Linked DNA regions of Homo sapiens. The protein of the gene in region 2 interacts with the protein of the main gene of each other region in a pairwise test. Each region holds a gene or a part of one and is shown on either strand. Other genes may lie near its edges.

Evidence for each region. Proteins that work in one complex are often made in the same cells at the same time.
Region 1: the proteins of ECSIT (region 2) and LOXL4 interact in a two-hybrid assay, tested with the Homo sapiens proteins (one study listed by BioGRID and IntAct).
Region 3: the proteins of ECSIT (region 2) and PAXIP1 interact in a two-hybrid assay, tested with the Homo sapiens proteins (one study listed by BioGRID and IntAct).
Region 4: the proteins of ECSIT (region 2) and PI4K2A interact in a two-hybrid assay, tested with the Homo sapiens proteins (one study listed by BioGRID).

What each region holds. Positions count from the first base shown.
Region 1 is NC_000010.11:98,253,874-98,258,194, forward strand, and holds part of LOXL4 (lysyl oxidase homolog 4 precursor), read right to left. Parts: intron 4,295-4,321; coding exon of another isoform or gene 4,292-4,294; coding exon 4,108-4,291; intron 3,932-4,107; coding exon 3,777-3,931; intron 3,075-3,776; coding exon 2,907-3,074; intron 1,867-2,906; coding exon 1,704-1,866; intron 1-1,703. UniProt on the Homo sapiens protein: Catalyzes the oxidative deamination of lysine and hydroxylysine residues in collagen and elastin, resulting in the formation of covalent cross-linkages, and the stabilization of collagen and elastin fibers.
Region 2 is NC_000019.10:11,507,823-11,512,819, reverse strand, and holds part of ECSIT (evolutionarily conserved signaling intermediate in Toll pathway, mitochondrial isoform 1 precursor), read left to right. Parts: intron 1-4,771; coding exon 4,772-4,829; intron 4,830-4,969; coding exon 4,970-4,997.
Region 3 is NC_000007.14:154,971,304-154,975,624, forward strand, and holds part of PAXIP1 (PAX-interacting protein 1), read right to left. Parts: intron 3,603-4,321; exon of another isoform or gene 1-3,602.
Region 4 is NC_000010.11:97,654,171-97,658,491, reverse strand, and holds part of PI4K2A (phosphatidylinositol 4-kinase type 2-alpha), read right to left. Parts: intron 2,208-4,321; coding exon 2,076-2,207; intron 1,672-2,075; coding exon 1,518-1,671; intron 1-1,517. UniProt on the Homo sapiens protein: Membrane-bound phosphatidylinositol-4 kinase (PI4-kinase) that catalyzes the phosphorylation of phosphatidylinositol (PI) to phosphatidylinositol 4-phosphate (PI4P), a lipid that plays important roles in endocytosis, Golgi function, protein sorting and membrane trafficking and is required for prolonged survival of neurons.

The DNA.
Region 1 (4,321 bases), on a different chromosome or scaffold from region 2:
CTTGCCCCCAGATTAAACCCTCCGAGAGGACCCCACAAAAGAAGGGCAGTTTTAAGAGTCAGGAGATGGTGAGTTCTAATAACATTTAAAGGAAGTCTATCACCTTAACCTGGGAGGCAGCTACAGTGTCATGGTTAGGCTTGCTGGTTTTGGAGCCAGGCCACCTGGGTTCATTCTTGGCTTACTTTCTGACTGTATAATTCACTAGCTCTATAACTGCTTAACCATTTTGTCTCTCATTTTCATCATCTGTAAGATGAAGATAATGGTGATATTAATCTGATGACACCTGTAACATGTCTGGCCTAAGTAAACATGCAGTTGAAGCTAGTATTTATTTTGTAAAATGCTTTTAAGCCTGTAAAGTGCCTTTATGTAGCTTAGTTCATATAATCCTCTCAAAAAGCTCTGCTGATACCTAACCTGGATACTTTGCCTGTACTGTCACTAAAAATCACTATCACTAAAGTAGTCCTGGGCGGAAGTGAGGCCCTGCCACACCACTGACCACAGCATGCATGCCACCTGGGCAGGCCGGCCGCAGCTTGCCCCAGGCTGGAGCCATCTGCATCTGGCAGTTGGCCATGTAGGGTCCTGTGGTATATATTGGAGAGAGCCAGGAAGTGCCCACTGACAAACCTAGAGTTTCTTGGTGAAAGAAGGCGAGCTTTCAGAGAGAATGAGAAGAGAGAGTAAAGGAAAGAAAGCAATGTGAAAAGCCAGGGAGGAAAAACAGGTGGTTACAGAGACTGCAGATTGGCTGACTGTGCCAAGTTGTCGTGAAGGATCAAATGTGTTCAAGAAGAGCGCTCCCACTGTAGGCAGTGGAGCAGGGAGGGGTTCGAGGTTCCCAGGAAGGGGAGTCAAGTGAGGAGCAGGCTCCCCACGTGCTGGGAGGCCTTGGTGATGGGGAGGTCCACTCTCATGCCCCATCCCTGCAGGGGAGGGTCTGATGGATGGGCCCAGTGTTCTCCCCAGGGTGCCCTGGACAGAGAGGAAGCCAGGAGCTCACTGACAAAGATGAAGGATATCTTGGTGTCGAAATTTGGCCACGAACAAGGTCAAGTGGCCACTTGGGTTGATGCTATCTGTAACCTTTGGGCTGGATATAGTCCATCTTGGCACTGACCTGGCTGGGAGATGTCAGAGATGCTGCTGCCCTAAGAATCTGGGTTTGTGGGGCAGAGCAATGCCACAGATGGCCTTGTCCCAAAGTCTTTTTGGGTAAATCCCACAGCTCAGGAAGAGAACACACAGCTGGGCCTTGGCCCCGGGTGTGCTCATATTTGTATGTCCTCTACGACAGCTTTCAAACTGCTTTTCTGACTACAAACCACAGTAAGAAATACATTTTATGCTGTAACCCAGTATACACATAGTTCCAAGGAAAAACTGCCCTTGCTGTTTTCTGTCCTGTTTCATTGTTTGTAACTGTTGGTCATAACCCAAAGTTGAAAACCGCCGTTCCGTGTCCTTGTGCTTCCTCATGTTCTCAGTGTTCTTTCTCACAATAACTCCGTGAGGGGGCAGGGTATGGATCCTGATGGGATGGGTGATTTGGCCACACAGCTGGGAAATGGCAGAGCTGGTACTTTCATTCCCCCATGCTGCTGGCCATAGACCTGGGACCAGCATGCAGGGCCCTCCCTGAAGGGGAGCACAGGCCTACCTGTCCCCAGCCCTGTGAGCCCTCCGTCACTCACTGTCCATGCAGGAGACTCCAGCCAGGAAGCGCCCGCCACCGTGGGAGCAGTGCACCGGCCCGTGCCTCTGGCACTGCTGCAGGGCCAGCTCTGTGCCTGAGCAGCGCACCCCACTCATCACCACCTCCTGGGCCCTTGGCGTCCCCGACCAGAACCAGGTTTCCTAAGAAGACAGCCAGCGTCACCCAGTCAGCGTGCCTTTGGAGTCACCTCCTGACTCCCATCTGAGGTGTGGCCTCAGTCATACCACCCCCACCGGGTTGTGTCCAGCCTGGGCCTGAAAATCTTCAGTGATGAGAACCCGAATTCCCTGGGGCAGTCCATGACACATTTGGACCCTTCTGATGTTAGAAATCCCCACCACATATGGAGGTAAAAATCCACCCACCGTGGCTTCCACTACTGGCCCTACACCCCTCTCTCTTCCAGATGGCAGAGGAGGGTCCTGTTCCCCGCCCCTCTCCCTGGGGGCTGTGCTCACATTTCCCCAGCTGCTCCTCAAGCGGCCCAGATCGTCAGTTGTGCTCAGGGTTGCCCAGTCCACACTGTGCGGCAGCCAGTGTGGGTGCAAGTGCAGAGGTTTCTCTGTTGCGGTCATGCCTAAGTCCTCTTGATTTTATTTTTTGATGTATTTTAGATCTATCCACTTATTTCTCCTGGACTACCTGGTCCAGTCCAGCCTCATTTCTCACCTGGGCTACTACAATAGCCTCCTGAGTGTGTTTCCTTGCATTCATGTTAATCTCCACCCAACGTTTTCCAAACAGCAAAGGAAGAAATCTTTCAAACATGTGGATTGCAAGCTTTGAGTGATCTTGCCCCTGCCTCCTCTGCCCTCATGTTTGACAGCACTCTCGAGAGAGAGCCACACTACAATCCCTGGCCCTGATTTCCTCAGCTGAATCAAGCTTTCTCTGGCCACAGGGCTTTTGCATAAGCTATTCATTCCTCCTCCACCTTGTCTGACTAATTTCTATTCATCTTTCCTGCAGATGCAAATGTGTCCCTCATTGACGATTTCATTAGGACTATGTCTTCTTGTTTACCACACTGTTCCCAGCACTCAGCATCATGTCGGCTCATAGTTTCACTCAGTAATGAATTGCCAAATGGGCAAAGAGGCAGCAGCTTTAGCACAGGAAGTTTTGGGCCTCAGAACAGGAGGGTGAGAGGTCATACGGAAGAAACAACAGAGGGACCTACCTTGTAGGCATGGATGGCAAAACCCAGGCCGAGCTGTCGGCAGGCCACCATGGCTTCGGTGAGCCCCCAGTTTTCACTGCACACGCTCCCCCAGCGTGGGACCCCGTTCACCTCCACCTGCACCTCCAATAGCCCCTCCTCAGGGATACGCCCACCAGCCAAGCGCACCTGCAATGGCGAGGGGTGTGTGAGGAGTGGGGTAGCCTTGCAGGGAAGAGCTCAGGGCTGCGAGCCTGGAGGTCTGCCCAAGCCAGCTCACTGTGTCACCCTAGACAAGACAGTCCCCTTCTCTGCCTTGGTCTCCTTCTCTGTAAGGTGAGGACAGTGTAGCAGGTAGTCTCTAATGTCCCTGCCTGCTAGAGAAATCTGACTCAAAGTGCCTGGACCAGGGGCTCCTCCTGCTCTGGCACTTGCCCTCCACCATTAACGACAACTGGCAATTTGCAAAGGGCTTTCATGTCCCTTGCCTCATTCACAGTGACCCCCTGAGAGCGTGAACCCCATTTTACAGTGGCACCAGTGACTTGCTCACAGTCCATGTTAGCACTGACACTTTGCCCTGAGCATCCCACACAGACTCCCTCGTGCCGACAGCCCTGTGGCCCTCTTTCCCAGGCACCTTCTTTCTCAGCTTCACAGGGGACCCGAGACGGGTATGGGAGAGCACATCCATCTGCAGAGCCCCTGTGGCCTCTGACATTTCGGAGGGGCTGCAGCCAGGTCGGCTCTAAGGGAAGGCAGACTGGTGCCCAAAGCAGAAGCGCTAGCCGCTCCTCCTGGACCTCTCCCCGCTAGCTCGATGTGGTGTCCTGGGGACTCCCCAGGGTTTCCCGGCCCCCAGCCTGAGGCCATGCTCAGACCCAAACTCACCTGATTCTGAAAGCCCATGTTAGGGACATTGCACCTGACAGCAGCATCATTCTCATGTTGGCAACCATTCTGGGACCCTTCCAGGGCAGGGCAGTCGCTGAGGGTCCGCTCATATCCCCTGCAGCGCACCTCACTCAGGTGGATGGGCCCTAGCCCTAGATGGGGAGAGAGGTGCTGTGTGCGAGGCTCCATCTCCGTAACCCCACACTTGTGGCTTCCCCTTCACAGAGGGGGATAACTTTCTGTCCTGGCCCTGTCACCCCAGGGCCTTCAAGACATGGACCAGTGGCATATCCAGGCCTTCTAACCCCTCCCAGGCTGTCTCACTCACCTTGGCCCAGCCGGGCCCCAAAGAGGGCCTCCCGAGCAGAGCCAAAGCCCAGCTGACGACACACGACACTGGCAGAGATGAGGTTCCACCTGTGGTCACAGACCGTGCCCCACTGGCGGTTCATGAGCACTTCCACCCGGCCCTCGCCCACCTGGGCCCCGGAGCGCAGGCGCACCCTCGGCTCCTGCTGGGAGAAACCTGCTTCAGGGACGGC
Region 2 (4,997 bases):
AGTCACACACCACTATGCCTGGCTAATTAAAAAAACTGTTTTTTTTTTTCAGAGACAGGGTCTCACTATATTGCCCAGGCTGGCCTTGAACTCCTGGGCTCAAGCAATCCTCCTGCCTCGGCCTCCCAAAGTGCTGGGATTACAGGCATGAGGCACTGTGCCTGGCCGTGAATTGAGTTCTGATTCTCTGGCTGAGTCCCCTGGTAGGTTCCCATGGTCCTTACTGCTAGCACAGCTTGAGTGACCTCTGCTTCAGTCCGTTCAGGCTGCTCTAACAAAATCTCTTAGCTTGGGTCATTGATGAACAACAAAAATTTATTGCTCACAGTTCTAGAGGCTGGGAAGTCCAAGATCAAGGTGCCACCAGATCTAGGTCTGGTGAGGGTTTGCTCTCTGCTTCAAAGATGACACCTTGCTGTGTCCTCACATAATATAAGGGGCAAACAAGCCCCTCAGACCTCTTCATATTTTTTTTGAGACAAGGTCTGGCTCTGTTGCCCAGGCTGGAGCGCAGTAGCACTATCTTGGCTCACGGCAAATTCCACCTCCCAGGCTGAAGCCATCCTTTCACCTCAGCCTCCCAAGTAGCTGGGACTACAGTCGTACACCACCACGCCCGGCTAATTTTTGTATTTCTTGTAGAAATGGGGTTCCACCATGTTGCCCAGGCTGGTCTCAAACTCGTGAGCTCAAGCGATCCACCCACCTTAGCCTCCCAAAGTACTGGGATTGCAAGCATGAGCCACCATGCCTGGCCCCCTCAGACCTTTGTTTGTTTGTTTTTTTTTTGAGATGGAGTCTCGCTCTGTCGCCAGGCTGGAGTGCTGTGGCGCCATCTCAGCTCACTGCAACTCTGACTCCCGGGTTCAAGCGATTCTCCTGCCTCAGCCTCCCAAGTAGCTGGGATTACAGGCATGCACCACCAGGCCCAGCTAATTTTTGTATTTTTAGTAGAAACGGGGTTTTACCATGTTGGCCAGGCTGGTCTTGATCTCCTGACCTCATGATCTGCCCACCTCGGCCTCCCAAAGTGCTGGGATTACACGCGTGAGCCACTGTGCCCGGCCAAGACCTTTTTTATAAGGGGACTAATCTCATTCATGAAGGCAGAGCCCTTATGATCTAAGTGCCTCTCCTCTCAAAGGCCTGACCTCTTAATCCTATTGCATTGTAGATAGATTGCAACATATGAATTTCAGGGGGCCATAAACATTCAGACCATAGCACCCTCCCATCCTTCTCCCAACACTTGCTACATTCTAGGCATCTTCCTTATTTTCTGTGCCAATTCTCACCACAGGGCTTTGCGTTCTCTGTTCCTTCTGCCAGGAACACTGTTCCCCATGGACTTCATGTTATTCCGGTCTCAGCTCCACTGTTCCTAATCAGGATGCCCTTCCTGACCTCCCTGGCCAAGGCACCACCCCTTCACCGTGCTTGGCTTGGTTCCTCATTCACCATGACTCAGTCTCCCTCCTGTCTCCCAAGGCTGAGCACAGGATTTGGTGCAAAGCTGACACTTGGCAGTGGTTTGTTGAATGACTGAGTGGAGTAACACCCTCAACTCAGTGTCCTGGGAGCCCCCACTCATGCCAGATCACACAAGGGATCCAAAGAGAGCCCCTCACAGCACTTGTCATGTGGTCCTGGACAGATAACAGTTTCCTTAAGAGCCAGTGGTTCTGAGATGGAGAAGCCCGGGGTGCTGTGGGAGCCGAGTGGGCAGGTGGGGCTTCCTGGGGGAGGTAAGGAGAGCAGAGGACGCTGGGCAGAGGGAGCAGTGTGTACCAGGAAATGCGGTGCAGTGAGTGGGGGCACCTGATTAAAGAGCTTGATCTCAAACCTCTTGGTTGGTGGGGAGAGCTATGCCGGGGGTGGGGGGGCAGAGATTTAAGAAGAAGGAATCGGGTTGGAATCATGTTTCTGGAAGAATCTGCAATTGGAAACGTGTCTCCTGGCAGCCGTGTGGATGCTGTTGGATGGGGAGAGGGGCTAGGGGACCAGGGTCGTGGGTCCAGGTGAGAGATGGCTTGAGACCAGCAGCAGAATGTGGGGGGGAGGGTTGTTTTTAGTTCATTTCTTCATTTTGCAAAGCAATGCACTAAAAAGCCAAACAGCATGTAAAAGCACACAGTGACGAGTCCTCTGCTTCTACCCAGGCCCCGTGCGCTGCCCCTGACGCCGCCCGTCTCCCTCCCCAGAGGTGACTATTTCCATGTCTCCTTCCAGAGAGGTTCTATACATTTGCAAGCAGATCTCTCTCTCTCTCTCTCTTTTTTTTTTTGGCATCTGTATCCTTTGTATTTAAATATCCTTCTCCCCCGTCTTATGGAGTAAAATACAGCCAGGCACAGTGGCTCATGCCTGTAATCCCAGCACTTTGGGAGGCTGAGGCAGATGGATTGCTTGAGCCCAGGAGTTCGAGACCAGCCTGGGCAACATGGCAAGACCCCATCTCTACCAAAAAAATACGAAAATTAGCTGGGAGTGGTGGTGCACACCTGTAGCCCCAGCTACTCAGGAGGCTGAGGCAGGAGGGTGGCTTGAACTCAGGAAGTCAAGTCTGTAGTGAGCCGTGATCATACCACTGCACACCAGACTGGGTGACAGAGCAAGATCCTGTCTGTTTAAAAAAAAGAAGTTCTTTAGCCAGGCATGGTGGCTTACGCCTGTAATCCCAGCACTTTGGAAGGCCGAGGCAGGCAGATCACCAGAGGTTGGGAGTTCGAGACCAGCCTGACCAACATGGAGAAACCTCGTCTCTACTAAAAATACAAAAAGAATTATCCAGGCATGGTGGTGCATGCCTGTAATCCTAGCTACTTGCGAGGGTGAGGCAGGAGAATCACTTGAACCCAGGAGGTGGAGGTTGCAGTGAGCCGAGATCGCGCCATTGCACTCCAGCCTGGGCAACAAGAGCGAAACTCCATCTCAAAAAAAAAAAAGTTTCTTTAGTAGCAGGGCATTATATACATGTACCTTGCCTTTTACAAATTTCATTTAATACAACTAGAAGTCACTGATCCATCTCAAATTTTTTTGTTGTTTTTTTGAGACAGAGCCTTGCTCTGTCGCCCATGCTGGAGTGCAGTGGCACAATCTCGGCTCACTACAACCTCCTCCTCCCAGGTTCAAGCAATTCTTGTGCCTCAGCCTCCCATGTAGCAGGGACTACAGGCGTGTGCCACCACGCCTGGCTAATTTTTGTATTTCTAGTAGAGACGGGGTTTCACCATGTTGGCCAGGCTGGTCTTGAACTCCTGGCCTCAAGTGATCCACCACCCTCGGCCTCCCAAAGTGCTGGGATTACAGGCATGAGCCACTGCGCCCGGCCTGCTCATCTCAATTTTTTTTAACTTGAAAGGATGAATGATATATGTTCTAATAGCTGTCCACTGTTTTGTTTCAAAAGCAAGTGCATTTTGTTAAAAAAAAAAAAACTTTGTCAGCGGGGCGCAGTGGCTTATGCCTGTAATCCCAATGCTTTGGGAGGCTGAGGCAGGTGGATCACCTGAGGTTGGGAGTTTGAGACCAGCCTGACCAACATGGAGAAACCCTGTCTCTACTAAAAATACAGACATTAGCCAGACGTGGTGGTGCATGCCTGTAATCCCAGCTACTCGGGAGGCTGAGGCAGCAGAATCACTTGAACCCAGGAGGTGGAGGTTGCGGTGAGCTGAGATCAAGCCCCATTGCACTCCAGCCTAGGCAACAAGAGCGAAACTCTGTCCCAAAAAAAAAAAAAAAAAATTGTCTAGTGTTTTTGAATTATGTTCAAGGTATAAAATTTTAAAAGATAAAAAAGGTATTCCTTCCCACCCTGTCCTCCACAGAGGTGAAAGCTATCATTTGCTTCTAGTGTCTCCTTCCTGGGATATTCTGTATATGTGAAGTTATTTTTCTTTTTTTAATTCACAAGCACTGAGCACTTATTATTTGCCAGGGACTGTGCTACATATTTTACAACCACCCAAAGTTAGGTTCATGCCCATAATCCTAGTGCTTTGGGAGGCCAAGGCAGGCGGATCACCTGAGGCCAGGAATTTGAGACCAGCCAGGCCAACATAGCAAAACCCTATCTCTACTAAAAATACAAAAAATTAGCCGGGCATGGTGGCAGGCGCCTGTAGTCCCAGCTACTTGGGAGGCCGACGCAGGAGAATCGCTTGAACCCAGGAGGCGGAGGCTATAGTGAGCCGAGATCATGCCATTGCACTCCAGCCTGGGTAATGAGCAAAACTCCATTTCAAAAATTAAAAAAATAAAATTAGCCAGGCATAGTGGTGTGCACCTGTAGACCCAGCTACTTGGGAGACTGAGGTAGGAAGATCACTTGAGCCCAGGAGTTCAAGGCTACAGTGAGCTATGATCATGCCACCATTCTCCAGCATGGATGACAGAGAGGGAGACCCCCATCCCTAAAAAAAAAAAAAAAATCGGAATTAAGTGCTGTTATCATCCCTATTGTGCATCTGGAGAAACTGAGGCACACAGGTACAGTGACTTGGCCAAGGTCACACAGCTTGTGACAGAGCCAGGATTTTGACAAAGGTGGGCTGGTTCTAGGGTAGTTCCCTCAGGGTGAGCATCCTAAAGATTGGTGGTTATTGCCAAATGGGACAGAGGGAGGAGGGGACAGGTTGGAGGGCCGTGTACCAGATCCAGGAGAGGTGTCCTGAATTCCCTGGTATCCCCCTTTCTGTTTCTCTGTCCCCAGTTCCTCTGTAGGGGATTGGGGGTTACAAGATTATATCCCTACTCTCCCTTGCAGGTTCCTTTGCCCAAAGACTCAACAGGTGCAGCAGATCCCCCCCAGCCCCACATCGTAGGTAAGTCCGAGAGCATGGGGGCAGCCAAGTCTCTAACCTTACCCAGGCCCTGCCAGGTTCTCGCTGGGCCTAGGCTGGGCTCCCTGGGCCTCTGGGCCGAGTCCCTTGCAGGGCACAGGGCATGTATGTCTCCACACCAGGAATCCAGAGTCCCGATCAGCAGGCCGC
Region 3 (4,321 bases), on a different chromosome or scaffold from region 2:
ACTACGGGCTTGAGTTAAGATGGGTCTTCATCCACTGCTGACCCACCCCATTAAGGGAGAAGAACAGATGGAGATTCAGGACAAGAGTCCCGGCTAGGAATGAAGATGGCCGTTGGCCTGGAACCTTCTCCACTTGAGGAAGCGAGAGGTGCAGGCCTGGATGGAGAGGAGAAATCTGCAAGGCCAGCCATCGAGATGCCTCCCAAAACCCCTACCACATTCATCCGATCACTTTTTCAACCATCTGATCTGCCTCTGGCTGGAAACATGTTAGTCCTGGAGAACGTAAGAAAAAGAATCTTAATTGCTCAATTACGTAATTGTGCTATACTACAAACAATTCTGAATGAATGTCAAGTTTAAATTTTTCCATCACAACTGTCATAATCCTCATTTACATTAATACTGAGTTACTGAATGCCATATATAGAAAGCAGTATGATACACATCACATGGCTTCTAACCACTATAAATTTGCAATTTAAACAGGATTTTGATGGTAAGTTACACTCCCCCCAACAATCTAATGTTCAACTAAATCTGTCTCATATTTCTAAAGTTTCAGTCATTTTCTTCACATCTAGAAGTAAAACGTCCTTATGTTCTCTTGCATTGCTGAAAGTCTCTCAGAAAATCTCCGCAATTCTTCTCACTAGTGATCAAATCCATTCACTCACTAGAAATGGATGGAGCCTTCTCAGTTTTCCACCGCTAGAGCACACAGCTGAGTATATCAAATTTGTCTCCTAAGGACAATTTCCAGTGCAGAGATGTGCCCAAACTCCCTACTGCAGTCAATTCTTTCCATTTCAAAGTAAATTATTTTGTCTCTATATCCAAATACAAACTTAAGGAACTTTATATTTAAACCAACATCCATTGTATTTGAAAAACATAATAAGGCCAGGCACGGTGGCTCACACCTATAATCCCAGCACTTTGGGAGGCCGAGGTAGGCAGATCACCTGAAGTCAGGAGTTCGAGACCAGCCTGGCCAACATGGCAAAAACCCGTCTCTAATAAAAATGAACAAACATTAGCCGGGCGTGGTAATGGGCACCTGTAATCCCAGCTACTCAGGAGGCTGAGGCAAGAGAATCGCCTAAACCAGGGAGGTGCAGTTTGCAGTGAGCAGAAATCCCACCACTGCACTCCAGCCTGGGCAACAGAGTGAGACTCTGTCTCAAAAAACAACCAAAACATATATATTAGAAATAAGTAGTAACTAACCAGCAGTAACTGACCAACACTTTTTGACACCACAGATAAATGAAAAGCAAAGAAAATTTCCTATTTCAAATGGATGACTTCTGTCCATAATTTCTCACCTAAAGAAAGTGAGAAAGTAGCCATTTCTCGAAGTGCCAGAGGCTTAATCCATGATTTCTCACACCAACCCTATGAGAGAGATCTTTACGGCCCATATCTCGCATATCCCACTGCTGACAGGACAGGTCCACTGCGTGGCCGCAGTCTTCCTGCCAGGACTGGGTCACCTTCTCAATTCCTCCACCTCAGCAGTATCATCACTCTTCTCATGACTGAGGTCAAAAATGCTAGAATCCTCTTTGCCTCTAGCCTGTCATTCTTTATGGCCTTTACTTTCTACCTGTCATGACATCCTCTGGCTCTCAGGACGACTGTGTGATCGTCACTTTGCTGCTCTGTGGCTGAGGCTGTGCCCTGTGGCTTTATCCCGCCCACCTGCCTGGACGCGGATGTGCAGGGACCAGGGCCGGCACCCTCAGCATTGGGCGGTGCTGGAGCTGGCTCCTTCTGTGCATCTACCTTTTCCCTAAACTCGGCTGACCCCAGCGCTCTCATGGGCACCCACCTGGACAATCCCTGGCCTTGCAGCTCTTGGACCTCCTCATCTTGGTGGCCTTCTCCCCATTTCCTCAGCCACACATTCCCAACCACCCCCAAGACCCATGGTCAGTGGCAGGCCTGTTTTCCTCCGGGACCCAACAAGGTGACATGGAGCGGTGGGCACTGAAGCAGGCCCAAGAGCTCCTAACGGGCAGCTGCTGTTCAGTTACAAGGCACTGTCACCACCCAGGACTTGAGGAAGGCCAGCTCGGCATTTTATCAGGCATCCACCTCTCAAGCCAGAAACCCAAAGTCTTCCCTATCTATGAATCACCTATTTGAAAATCTTCTATTCTCCTCAAACCCGATGACCTTCTCTCTCTGCTCACCTTCTCCCCCACCATCTTAACTGTCTGCTGTCTAACATCTAAAGGGCATGTTTGCCTCTATCTTACTCTGGATGCCAGCCAACCGCTGTCATCATCCCAAGAACCGTGTACTACTAATACTCGCTGCTTAGGTGGAGGGGAGGGGAGACAAAGATTTTGTCTGTCCCACAGCATTTCTAAACACTACGTAAACCACTGCTATTATCATACCCAATAAAATGATCATTGTCAACATCACCTTATACCTACGCCATACTGAATTTCCCCACTTCATCAACATCAAGCCTTTCCACTGAAAGTGGATGTGGAGAATACTGGATCCGGCTTCAGGTTGTTCCTATATGCTACAGAGCCATTTTTCTGGGACTTTGAGCTGTCATTATGAAATGAAAGTGTCCAGAACAAGGTGAAGCGGCAGACGGGGTGTCACCATCAGATGGAACAGCCCAGCTGGCTCTCAATGGTGCGGCTCCTCAGAGCCTGGCCCCAGACCCTCCTCTTGCTCTGCCCCACCTACTACACATTCTCACATCCGCCTCCACAGCTTCAGTCAGCCTTGTTTTCTCTGGTTCCACCACGTAGCAGACAGCCCCTGCATGGATCAGATACCTCCAACCCAACACATCTGAAAAGAAACTTAGGTTCTTCAAACCTGCAGCTTTCCAGTGTTCCTTATCTCTGAAACAGCATCATCTTCCTTCACTCGCTCAAGCCAGAAAGCTGGATCCTCCCATTCATTTTTTTCTGTCTCAAACTCCAACTCTATGTCCTCTTAAGGGGCCTCTCTGCTTCACTCTTGCCCCTCAAAGATCCACTGTTTACACAGAGTGCATCTCACCCCAACTCAAAAGCCCAGTGGCTTCCTTCCAAGAAAGACCATACTCCTCACTATGGCCCTATATGGCAAGGCCCCTTTTAAATCCTTCCTAGAACTCATTCACCTTATGAAGTTCAAATTTCATTAACTTTCTTTTCTTAGAACTCAGCAAATTCATGCCATTTGGGTCTTCCTTTTGCCTGGGAACTCTGTGCCCTCAGTTCTTCACATGGCCTCTCCTTGTCATTCAACCCTGATCTAAGTCACCTCCTGCCCGAGGTCCTTCTTGACCATCTCGTCTAAAATAGCCTCCTTCCCTTCACCTGCTATTACGGGACCCTGATTATTTTCTTTGAAACACCTTTCACCATCAACAGTCCTTTTGTTCATATTTCTCCACTTACTGTATGTCTTCTCTACCTAAATTAGTTTTCTTAGTCACAATTTTATCTCCAGTGCCCAGAAAAATGCAGAGTGGCCAATATACCACCTCAACTACCTTCTTTCTGTCTTAAATAGAAATATATGTACTTAAAACTTTTAAGGCCATGCGTGGTGGCTCACACCTGTAATCCCAGCATTCTGGGAGGCCGAGGTGGGTGGATCACTAGAGATCAAGAGTTCAAAACCAGGCTGGCCAACATGGTGAAACTCTGTCTCTACTAAAAATACAAAAAAAAAAAAAAAAATTAGCCAGGCATGGTGGCACATGCCTGTGATTCCAGCTACTCGGGAGGCTGAGGCAGGAGAATCATTTGAACCCGGGAGGTGGAGGTTGCAGTGCGCAGAGATCATGCAACTGCACTCCAGCCTGGGCGACAGAGTGAGACTCCATCTCAAAAAAAAAAAAAAAAACAAAAACAAAACAAAAAACAACCAGCAACAAAACTTAAGATCCACTCTGTATCAATAAGCTCCATGCTATATAAACTGTAACCTGAAATCAAGCCTTCCTCAACAAATGCATGAATTTGTGTTATTTATTTACTACCATGAAGTTCATTATAAGCAAATCAGGTACAGCTGGTAAACTTCATTATTCTCTTTGCTGCCATTGCTAATTTTAAACTAAGTAAGAGTGGAAACCCTTCAACGGATAGTACTCCATCACTGACATCCTGGTTCTACTCAGCTGCTTTAAATCTTCAACTTAAAATACGCTGTTACCCTTTTTCAATGACCCTGAAATATACATATATACACATACACACACACACACACACACACACACACACACAAGTAAACAGGTTCTCACACAAATACTGCTTGTAAGTTATTTGGTCTGAAAAAGCAAAACCAATAAACT
Region 4 (4,321 bases), on a different chromosome or scaffold from region 2:
ATAGTAGCATTGTTCGTAATAGCTAAAATGCAGAAGCAACCCAAGTGTTCACTGAAAGATAAATGGATAGACAAAATGTGGTATATACATAAAATGGATCAGTATTTATCCTTAAAAAGGAAGGAAATTCTGATATATACTACATCATAGATGTACCTTGAGAACGTTATGCTAAGTGAATAAGCGAATCACCAAAAGACAAATACTGTACTATTCCACTTACATGAGGTACTTAGAGTAGTCAAAATCATAGAAACAGAAAACAGAATGATTGTTGCCAGGGACGTAGGGAGGGGGAATGAAGAGTTACTGTTTAATGAGTATAGAGCTTCAGTTTTACAAGATGAAAAGAGTTCTGGAGGCCAGGCATGGTGGCTCACACCTGTAATCCCAGCACTTTGGGACACTGAGATGGGTGGATCACCTGAGGTCAGTTCAAGACCAGCCTGGCCAACATGGTGAAACCCCATCTCTATAAAAACACAAAAATTAGCCATGCATGATGGCGGGTGTCTGTAATCCCAGCTACTCAGAAGGCTGAGGTGAGAAAATCACTTGAACCCAGGAGGCAGGGGTTGCAGTGAGCTGAGATCGCACCATTGCACTCCAGCCTAGGTGACAGAGCAAGACTCGGTCTCAACAACAACAAAAAGAGCTCTGGAGATGGATGGTGGTGACAGTTGCACAACAATATGAATGTATTTCATACTACTTTAAAATGGTTAAGATAATAAATTTTATGTTACATGCATTTTACTATGATTAAAATATCGGACAAAATATAGCTCCAATAAGGTGACTTTAGAGACTTTTTTTTTTTTTTGGAAACAGAGTCTTGCTCTGTCACCCAGGTTAGAGTGCAGTGGTGCAATTCTGACTCACTGCAACCTCCGCCTCCCAGGTTCAAGCGATTCTCCCACCTCAGCCTCCTGAATAGCTGGGACTACAGGTGCCCGCCACCACACCCGGCTAATTTTTGTATTTTTAGTAGAGACAGGGTTTCACCATGTTGTCCAGGCTGGTCTGGAACTCCCGGCCTCAAATGATCTGTCCACCTTGGCCTCCCAAAGTGCTGGGAGTACACGCATGAGCCACCACATCCAGCCTGAATTTAAAGACTTTTGTCCTCAATACATGTACATTTTACCAGGTTAGTTGAATTTAAATTGCACTGAAAAAAAATTTTTTTTAAATATCAATGATCTAAACATCTACCTCAAGAAGTCAGAGGAAGACAAAACTGTCCTGTTACAGGTCTTGAGGCTACAAGAATGACTAGGGATCAAGGATAAGAGTACTCTTCACAGTGCTTTGGAAGAGTTAAGTGTCTTCTGTCTGGAACCAGGAAAGAGTGTAAGATAAAATGCAAATACTAACTCCAGGCCTCACCACTTCTGAAAACTACACATGATGTGTCTGGACAAGGTACTCTGACTCCCAAGCCCTGCAAGCCTCCAGGCCTCCCCATGCCTCAACACAGTCTGGCACAGGGCATGGGACCACCTGCAGCTGCTCACCAGTGTTGCGGATGATGTAATCCAGCACCACCAACCGCTCAAACTGGAGCAGTAGTTGCCGGTTAGTGTTCTCAGGAAGAGGTTCTGCTTCAAAACGCCGCAGCCAATAGTCTGCATCTTTGTAGCCTTCAACAAAGAGCTGGAATGAACCAACCTGGAACCAAGAGGAAGGAACAAAGGTTTTTCCCTACTGCCCAAATCCAAAGACCTTTGGAGTATATGCCAGATACCCATTAAGGCCCTATGGAGTTTGTATCAGAGAAGGAAAACTTTTCAAGATCTTTACTTCCTCATTTCTTGCAAGTACAGGAGAAAAGAGATGTAACAGTGATCATCCATCCAAATTAAAGAACCTATCCAAATGAACCAGAGGAGTAAAGTGAAAAGTTAGGTCTCAACTTTTCAAACCTTAGCCACTTGACAGAAATAAGGAAGACAGGATCCTCAGGGCAGGTTATTCACGTGCCCATATTTGAGTTGTAGGCACCTTGCTTCACCACTTGGATGACTATGTCACTATAAATCATGACCCTTGATAAGCCAGAGGTGCGTCTATACCTTTGGTGGTAGCCCGATGCGGTTAAACCGCTGTCCAACTTTTGGCACTTTCTCTAGTGCAAGCCGCTTGCCCCTGGACTTCACTCGGTCAATGGCACTATAGTTGAAGGTCTCACTGGCCAGGTATACTACCTACAGTGAAAGAGAAGAGATACTAAGGTTAGAGTCAAGTTTAAGGAACCAGAAGACTATGGCAGAGAATAAATAGCTTGATGTTCACAAATCCTATTCCTCTTCCAGGGCACAGAAAGAATACATTTCTCAGCCTTCCCAGCAACTAGGAGAGGGAAGATAACTAGTTTGGGCCAATGAAATAATGACAAAATTATGTATGTACAACACTTCCACTGCTGGCAACTAAAATCTCCCACAATCCTTAATTCACATTCTCCAGTCTGTGCAGCTAGGAAAGAAGGGCTGGGAAATAGCAGAGCCACACCATGGAAGAACCTCGGATACCTTGTAACTACATGAGTGATGTGGTATCTAGGAGAGCTGCCTATCTGGCATGAGTCTGAGATGTAATCAAGAAATACACTCCTGGCCAGGCGTGGTGGCTCACACCTGTAAACCCAGCACTCTGAGAGGCCGAGGTGGGCAGATCACTTGAGGTCAGGAGTTCGAGACCAGCCTGGCCAACATGGTTAAACCCCGTCTCTACTAAAAATACAAAAATTAGCCAGGCATGGTGGTGCACGTCTGTAATCCTAGATACTTCGGAGGCTGAGGTGGGAGGATGGCTTGAACCTTGGAGGCAGAGGTTGCAGTGAGCCAAGATCGCACCACTGCACATTCTATCCTGGGTGACAGAGGGAGACTCTGTCCCAAAAAAAATATGATAAAAAAGAAATACAATCCAATTGTATTAAACCACTTAGATTTAAGGGTTGTTACAGCAGCTAGTATGAAGTACAAGGATTAACACTGTCATCTCCTGGGTTAGATTAGGCCAAATGCCCATCTTCTTTCCAGAGACAAACAAGTTGCAATTTACTCTGTACCCCTTCATTTCCTTTTGAAAAAAAATTTTTTTTTTTTTTTTTTTTTGAGACAGAGTCTCACTCTGTTGCCCAGGCTGGAGTGCAGTGGCACAGTCTCGGCTCACTGCAACCTCCAAGTCCCGCATTCAAGCAATTCTCATGCCTCAGCCTCCCAAGTAGCTGGGATTACAGGTGTGTGCCACCACTCCTGGCTAATTTTTGTATTTTTAGTAGAGAGAGGGTTTCACCATGTTGGCCAGGCTGGTCTTGATCTCCTGACCTCAGGTGATCCTCCTACCTCGGCCTCCCAAAGTGCTGGGATTACAGGCATGAGCCACTGTGCCCGGGCCCTTTTGAATTTTTTTACTTTGTGAAATTATTCGTATTCAAAACACAAACATTAAAATTGGTTTTCATTTTAATTAACTGCTATTTTTATGTATAGGCTATACACTGTAATCCTGGCTGCCTCTGAGGAAGGAAACTGAATGGCCAGGAGATAGGGGTAGCAGGGAGTCTGAATTACTTTTCTCTGTTTACCCTATGTGCCTTCTGATTTTTATACTAGATGCATGCATTACTTATTCTAAAAAAAATTTTTATGAGCCATCAATATTATACTTAAGTCAAATTGCAGTGACGTAATTGTAATCCACATATGCATCTATTGTCACACTTATCACATTGTCTTGTAATTATCCATTTGTATATCTAACTCCTCCTTTAAAATGAATGAGATTTGAGGAAGCGGAGAACATCTTATTTATATTAGCATCCACAGCACCTAACACAGTAGCTGGCATATGCTCATTAAATATTTATTAAGTGAATGAAGAATGAGTTACAAGCTTCTTTCAGAGACAGCAACAAGTGAGTTTTAGCATATAAATACCTAAAATCAAACTTATAAGAAAGGTATTTTCCTAAGCCTTGTAAAATTTATTACAAATAACTATTTTTTTTCCCATGAACCTGAGAGGCAAAATAACTGCCTCTCATCTATCGCTCCATGCTACCATCTAGTATTAATAGACTACCTAAAATGGATGTGCATGGTACTGTAGTAGGCACTCCCTGCCTTACAAATCAGAAAACTCAGGCATAGGAATGAAGGAAAAAGAGCTTTCCTAAGGCTACCTTGCCAGTGTCCACAGTGAAACTCCTGGCTCTCTCAAGCCATAAATCCCCTTTTGCCCCCATCATATTTATTTTCTATCATTCTTCCTAACAAACCACTTTTTCCCCATGACTAATGAAACTATCATA